Linked DNA regions of Homo sapiens. The protein of the gene in region 2 purifies or fractionates together with the protein of the main gene of each other region. This does not show direct contact. Each region holds a gene or a part of one and is shown on either strand. Other genes may lie near its edges. The genes, in order: ACOT2 and ZNF277.

Region 1 (3,918 bases), on a different chromosome or scaffold from region 2:
GCCCACGGGTGTGAAGCCCAGGCTTTTCCCTAGTCTTGAAGCCCAACCCCGGAGGACCTTGCAAGAGATGAAGCACATGCAAAACACCGAGGTCTTCACACTGCACCAGCCCCTGCCAAAGTATGACCACTGTGTGGGTGAGAAGCACCGCTGGGTAGGGCAGCACCTGGAGCCCCAGCTTGTGGAGTGAATTATCCTGACAATGGACAAGACCGTGGTCTTTGGGGACTTGCTCACTGATGACAAAGATACCATTCGAGGCCAAGAGGAGAGGCCACAATAGTACCTGGTCCTGCCATGCATAGGGACGCGGCTGCTCTCCTGGAATGGTAACAGGGAGATCATAGCCAGCCAGCGGGGAGCTAGGCAGCAGGAACGAACAGGCCCTGCAGGGGGCAGCAGCTGCAGCTGGAGCAATGGTGGGCGGGCAGGCACCAAAACCTCTGCACTGTCACAGGCCCAGCCACCTGGCACCTCCTAGCTGCCATGGAAATACAGTGAGAAAACCAGTCGGAATTCTTATTTAAAAAAAAAAAAAAGTGGCTTCCTAGTCAATACATAAATAAGAACATTAAAAAATTGAAACTACCTGAATTTTTTTTTTTTTTTTTTAAGATAGAGTCACTCTTGTCCCCCAGGCTGGAGTGCAATGGCATGATCTCAGCTCACTGCAACCTCTGCCTCCCGGGTTCCAGCGATTCTCCTGCCTCAACCTCCTAAGTAGTTGGGACTACAGGCATGCACCACCACGCCTGGCTAATTTTTCTATTTTTAGTAGAGATGGGGTTTCACCATGTTGGCCAGGCTGGTCTCGAACTCCTGACCTCAGGTGATCCGCCGGCCTCGGCCTCCCAAAGCGCTAGGATTACAGGCGTTAGCCACCGCGCCCGGCCTGTTTTGTTTTTAATATAAGTGTCTTTTTCCTTTCCTTACAATGTCTTTTTTTTGAGACGGAGTCTCGCTCTGTCGCCCAGGCTGGAGTGCAGTGGCGCGATCTCAGCTCACTACAAACTCTGCCTCCCGGGTTCACACCATTCTCCTGCCTCAGCCTCCCGAGTAGCTGGGACTACAGGCGCCCGCTACTACGCCCAGCTACTGTTTTGTATTTTTAGTAGAGACGGGGTTTCACCGTGTTAGTCAGGATGGCCTCAATCTTTTGATCTCGTGATCTGCCCGCCGAGACTTCCCAAAGTGCTGGGATTACAAGCGTGAGCCACTGCGCCTGGCCCTTACAATGTCTTTTAACTGAGCACTAGGTTTGAGGGACCTCTCAGTTTTGGAGCGGCAGGGACACTTCCCCAATCAGCTTTCCATTCCATTCCTGTTTCTTTACACTAACCTCCGGAAGGTTGGAAGCTACATCCCTTCTTCGTGTGAAAAGGGCAGGGACGGAAAAAAAAAAAAAGTGTAACTCCCCTCAAAGTGCCGGGCGCGGTGGCTCACCCTGTAATCCCAGCTCTTAGGGAGGCAGAGGCGGGAAGATAGCTGGAGACCAGGAATTCGAAACCTGCCTGGGCAATATAGCCCGGGGGCGCGGCGGGGGGGCATACACATAAGCGAAAAGCGTGGGGCGGGGGAGACACACAAAGTGAAAGGCGAACGAACACGGAACAATTAGCGGAGGTGAGTCACCTGGCGGCAGGAAGAGCGTGCCTCGCACCCGGCCCACGCGCACCGGCTCGCGCCGCACCCCGGGCGGGAGGAAGTAGCGCTCGTGCCGCGTCTGGCACAGCAGCCGCCCGGGGTCGGGGTCGTGGCCATCCAGCACCTCCAGCTCCACGGCCAAGGGCGTTCGCACGTCGCGCTTCACCAGCCGCACCAAAGGTTTCTCGGGCTCCAAGGCCCAGAGCAGCCCCATGGGCTCAAGCCCCGCGAAGCTGCCGCCCAGCGCGGGCGCGCGCTCCAGGTCCAGCTCGCCAAGAGTGTCGGCGCGGTAGCGCGCGTGGGCCTGGAAAAGCGCGCCCTTCTCGTCGCGCAGGGACGCGCGCAGCGTGACCGGCTGCTCCGGGGCTAGGCCGCGCACGGCGATTCGCACCGGTTCGTCCCAGCAGCAGCGGCCCGCAGGCTCCAGGATCAGCGTCGCCGCCATCCGAGCAGGAACCCTAATGATCTGACCAACCTGCCTCAGCTGTGGAGACCCCAGGAACTGCGCCGAACTCTTCAGGCTCCATTGGTACAGCCGGGACGCTCGAAGGACAGCAGGAGATGAGGCCATTTTGAATTCAGACCTGAGAACAACTGAATGGGGGTGGGGAGAAAGAAGCTTGTTAGACATCCTCTCGGGCTGCCGTCGCAGGCTAAGCGCCCACTAGGGCAGAGCTGTCTGCTAACGTGAGCGGGGAAGGCCAGAGTCCAGCCGATCAGCCAGACCAAATATAGACACACTGGAACTTGCTTAAAGTCTCCTGTGTTGAAACCTCCACTTTATGTTGGAAAGCTACTTCCTAGGTTTGCTTTTCAGAAGCTTGCTGGCCTGCGGAATGGGCTGGACCAGGGCTGGTTCTTAAAGAACCAGGCAGCTAGCAGTCTCCAGGCTCCAAACTCCTGATGGCGAAGAGGAATGCAGAGCTGGAGTTAGTTTTGATCACTTTGTTGAATAATTCACACTCATTACTAATCTTAGGGCTTTTCTTTCAAAATCTGCACCATGGTGTTTTGCTTTTGTGTTCTCTGTATATGCCTATCCTCCACATCAATCCCACATCGAAGGGTGCTGGCTTCTTACTAGCTGTGTGACCTCTGAGCTTCATTCCTTACAAGTGTAAAAATAGCCAAATGGGGTAATAGGTAGTAATTTCTCAAACTCCTGACTTTGTAATCCGCCCGCCTCAGCCTCCCAAAATGCTAGGATTTACAGGCATGAGCCACCGCGCCCGGCTAATAGTTATTATTTTGTTTTACTGGTTTCTCAATTATTGTCCCAGTCAGGCAAGGGTTACTTTTTTTTTTTGAGAGACAGGGTCTCACTACATTGCCAGACTGGAGTACAGCGGCAGTTTACCATCACTGCACTTACAAACCTCCAACTCCTGGTGCTCAAGCCATCTTCCTGACTCAGCCTCTCAAATACCTCAAAGGACTACCGGAGCTCCCCATGCATCGCGCTTTTTTCTACTTTTTCGTAAGCTATTGGTTTCACCAGAGGTGTGGTGTTTTTTTTTTTCATCACTTAAGCTTTAGGCCCCTGCCAAGCCCTTGTACCTGATTTTATAATTTCCTACCTGTGTAATTAGAGAAAGCTATAAATGTGTAGGCTTCAAACCCACAAAACCTGTGTTTGCCTCTGCTCCTAATAAGGCTGTCCTCAAGGTAAGCCTTTTTATCTCGTTCCAAATCTCTCATGTCCCACGTCATTAATCATACAATTCCCTGTCAGTTCTAATTACCTTTGTATAACACCTCAAGTATGTTCTGTGCCTAGAACTCTCAGGAAGTAAGAAGGCAAATAATTCTGTGTCTGGAATTGGTTCCTTCTGGTGGATTCTTGGTCTCGCTGACATCAAGAATGAAGCCGCAGACCCTCGCAGTGACTGTTACAGTTCTTAATACAGTTCTGAAAAGTAGTGTGTCTGGAGTTTGTTTCCTCTGATGTTCAGATGCGTCCGGAATGTGTTCCTTCTGGTGGGTTCATGGTCTCGCTTCTCACCGACTTCAAGAGTAAAGCCACAGACCTTCAAGGTGAGTGTTACAGCTCATAAAGGCAGCAGGTCCAGAGTTGTTTTTCTTGTTCCTCTCAGTGGGTTCATGGTCTTGGCTTCAGGAGTGAAGCTGTATACCTTCACGGTGTTACAGCTCTGAAATGCAGTATGGACCCAAAGAAGGAGCAGTAGCAAGGTTTATTGTGAAGTACAAAAGAACAAAGCTTCCATCAGCCTGGAGCGGAACTCACGCAGGTTACCACTACTAGCTGGGGTGACC
Region 2 (3,818 bases):
GGAAAAAAATAAGTTCTGTTTTTAGGCATATTAAAGTGTGGACTGGAAATCCAAATGGAAAAGTTTCACATAAGGAAATATAGATTTGGGGCTCAGAAGTGAACCAGGATGAAAGCTATGGATGAACTCAATTCATGAATATTTACTCTGACTGCCTACTCTGCACCAGCACTAACATTTAAGCCATAGGCCTAATAGTGGTAGTTATACAGATGTGCATGCCCTGAACAGGTGATAAGATCTTGAGAAACATATGTATACACATTTAAGAGAAAAGAGGGAAAAGAACCACTGGACAAGACTAAGCTAGACTGATGAGAAATAAGAGGATGATGCACCAAGATCACGGGAGAATTTTTAAAGGAAGCTAAAGGGAAGAAGGTGTTCAAGCTATTGAAATCCTCGAGAATCTTCCTAATTCTGTAGTTTCTTTCAGAATATGGATGAAAATATTCAAAGAAGTGTCAAGTAGGAATCAAGCTCTTCAAAAAGAAAACTGGGAACACATACAAATCTTGCAAATGTCAAGAAACCAGTGAAATCTCAAAGAAATGGAAAAAGAAATATGATTCTAGCATAAAATCTGTTACTGTAACTTTCAGTGAATCATTTAAACTCTATATACCTCCAGCCACTCACACAGAAAACAGAGTTTTGTCTGTTTGTTTAAAATGAGGTTTGGGGAAAAATAACAATATGAACTTAGGAGTATAGGGAGGACTAGGAAGGATGTTTAAATATAAGACACAGTTTCTGCCCTTAAGTTACAGTCATTTTGAACTAAGAGCAAACCATACAAAGGTACTTAAACTATATGCTTTACCTAGAGTTCCACATGAAAGAATAAATATTTAAGAATAATACATATGCAAATCATCGTTAATGCAAATCAAGTCAGCAAATGCCCTACTAATACTCTAGTTTGAGGGTTCTTCCTCGTGGACTTGAGTTGAGATCCTCAAGTTGAGATCCTCAAGATCCTCAATTCAAAGTCTTTGAGTTGAAATATTGAGCTGGGGTCACTCAAACACTGAATACATTATACATCCATTATCATTAAGCAGTTTGATTGGTTTAAATTACATGTTTTAGAAACTAGAATGAAATTCTGATTAATAAAAAATTGTTTGATAAAGTATAATTAGTAGCAGCATAAGGAAAAAACCACCAAGCTGTGGTAGAGTGAGTGACTTCAAAACCCTCTGGCTGTAAAGTCTTCCTAGGATGAGTTCTTGCACACTATGGGCCAAGGGCATAAACATCTTCACGAGTTCCAATGCATGATGAGAAAGTGCCTCTCAGAAATGGTATACCAGTTTACATTCTTAAAAGCAGCTGAAGAAGTACTTGTCTCTTAACATTCTTGCCACCATTTAGTACTATTATTTTCAAGTCCTGTTAACTTGATAGAAGAAGAAAAAGTATACTGTTACTTTTGTTTCATTTAATGATTTAGACTTCTTTCTGGACATGCTTCTTACTGATTTGTAAAGTTCTTTCTTTATAAAGGAGATAGATCCTATAATCATTGCTAACGCCCACAGAAGAATCACCCACACTAACCTCATGCTTCCACACTATGTAGCATAAAATTGTGATGAACTGGCTGATGGCAAATTCAGCCTGTCTTCCTGCTGTTTGGCAAGTCTTTTTTTACTTTTTGTTGATCCTCTAATCAGAATTCCAGTGGCGGGCTATTGTAAACTGCCTCTGCTTTCCCTAAACTTCAATCCAAGCCTGAATCCCCTCCCTACACAGACTTGTCAGACCATGAGCACCCAGGACAGAGAGATTCCCAGAGCCTAGAATAGTAGTACCAGACACATGAGAGGCCAAATAATGACTACGCTGGCATGGCATGGCTTAAAAGGCATGTACCTGGAATGTTTGGTTTGAAACTCTAGCTCTGCACCTCATTCACTATGTGTTCCTGGGCAAATTAAGCTTCCTAGGCCACATTTTACTCATAAATAGAACGGCATTTAATAGCCACCTCACAGGGTGCTATGAAGCAAGAACCAAATACAAGGCATGGCTTATGGATGGTCATCAGTCATTGTTAGCTTACTTCCAATCCCCAAGTTGGTCTAGTCTTTCTCAGGCTTTGACAGCTTGAAATGGATTTATACGCAGCTACATTTACTCTTTTCTTCATGTCACTGATGGACAATGAGGGCACATTAATGGGTCTTTATTACTACAAAGTCAAGTTTCTGGCACTGAAGGATTTCCACAATTTAGCTCCATTTTACCTCTTCAAATTTATCTCATACTCCTCCCCATAAAAATTTTTCTATCTAAGCCGGAGTAGACTTTTACTCGATTTTCCTGAATACACCTTGAACATTTAGATGCATATGTATCTTTCTTCCCTTCCCTACAACTCTCTTAACTATCCAAATCCTTCTCATTGTTAAGACACAGCATTATTACTGTTATTTTTATTGGCTAATATTTATTAAGTGCCTTCTATGTGCCAGGTAGTGTTCTAAGTATATTACATGTCACTTAATCTTCATAAGCCCTGCAAGATATTTTATCATTATCTCTATTACCAAGATAAGAATACATATTTATCTTTCTTCTCTAAGTAGACCGTACACTCTTGTATGATATGGATTATGCCTTGTACTCTTGTACTTCTTTGTATAGGCATCTACTTAAGCAGAAATTCAACGAGCATGTATGGATTGATTGCCTTTTCATTCTTCTTTTGTTTCTGTAAGCTGGCATAATGCTCACTTCCATTAAATGTATCACTATCAAACTGTAAAGTAAAAAAGGTAACTTAAATGCAGTATATGTAGGTATTTTTAGAGACCTGAGTCCATCTGCAGACACATCGTACAGATTCTGCATGCTAAAGAACAAGAATGGCTGAAGTAGTAGGGTTTGAGTTCTTATAAATAAATCCTTAGGACTACTAGGATCATGACATCTTTTGATCATTCTTAAGGCCACTGTTAGCAACAGTGAGAAAATTCATGTAAATTGGAAATTATGAATAAGTGCACGCAAATAACATCCATAAGACATGATAGTAAATTTAGCCTTGTTTTGCAGATTTCATAAGACACTGCTATAAGGAGAGAAGAGAAACTCAGGAAGTCCTATTTCTTTACTGCAGTTGTTGTACAGGAAAACTTTTCTTAGATATAAATCAACATCCAATGGTATCACCTTCCCCTACTGGAAGAAATAATCATTTGGGATGTCTACAAAATAAAATATGCTTCCAGGGACTTTCTTAAATTATATGACTATGGTAAATAGCATTTATTTTTCTCCTTGATCTCTTGAGGATATAGCACAAATATTTAAATCATTTCTCTCTCTTATAACATATTTAGCTAAGTCCAAAGATAAAAGAAAGACTTACAAGAAATCACTAAAGGAACAGCAAGTCAACTTCAAGTAATAGTCGAGATTAAATCACAAATAATGGGAACCCATGTACTTTTAAACAAAAGTAACAATTTAAAAAATTACTTTCTGATTAACTTACGAAAATAAAAATTTTCAGCCGGGTGCAGTGGCTCCCGCCTGTAATCTCAGCACTTTGGGAGACTGAGGTGGGCAGATCATGAGGTCAGGAGATCGAGACCATCCTTGCTAATACGGTGAAACCCCATCTCTACTAAAAATACAAAAAATTAGCCAGGTGTGGTGGCAGGTGCCTGTAGTCCCAGCTACTCGGGAGGCTGAGGCAGGAGAATGGTGTGAGCCCAGGAGGTGGAGCTTGCAGTGAGCTGAGATCACACCACTGCACTCCAGCCTGGGCAACAGAGCGAGACTCCATCTCAAAAAAAAAAAAAAAA

What was found.
Region 1: the proteins of ZNF277 (region 2) and ACOT2 purify together in Homo sapiens (affinity purification with mass spectrometry; one large-scale study listed by BioGRID and IntAct). This does not show direct contact.

Annotation. Positions count from the first base shown.
Region 1 is NC_000014.9:73,567,598-73,571,515, reverse strand, and holds the start of ACOT2 (acyl-coenzyme A thioesterase 2, mitochondrial), read right to left. Parts: upstream 2,304-3,918; 5' UTR 2,276-2,303; coding exon 1,633-2,275; intron 1-1,632. UniProt on the Homo sapiens protein: Catalyzes the hydrolysis of acyl-CoAs into free fatty acids and coenzyme A (CoASH), regulating their respective intracellular levels. Displays higher activity toward long chain acyl CoAs (C14-C20).
Region 2 is NC_000007.14:112,296,930-112,300,747, reverse strand, and holds part of ZNF277 (zinc finger protein 277), read right to left. Parts: intron 1-3,818. UniProt on the Homo sapiens protein: Probable transcription factor. Involved in modulation of cellular senescence; represses transcription of the tumor suppressor gene INK4A/ARF, perhaps acting via the Polycomb group (PcG) complex PRC1.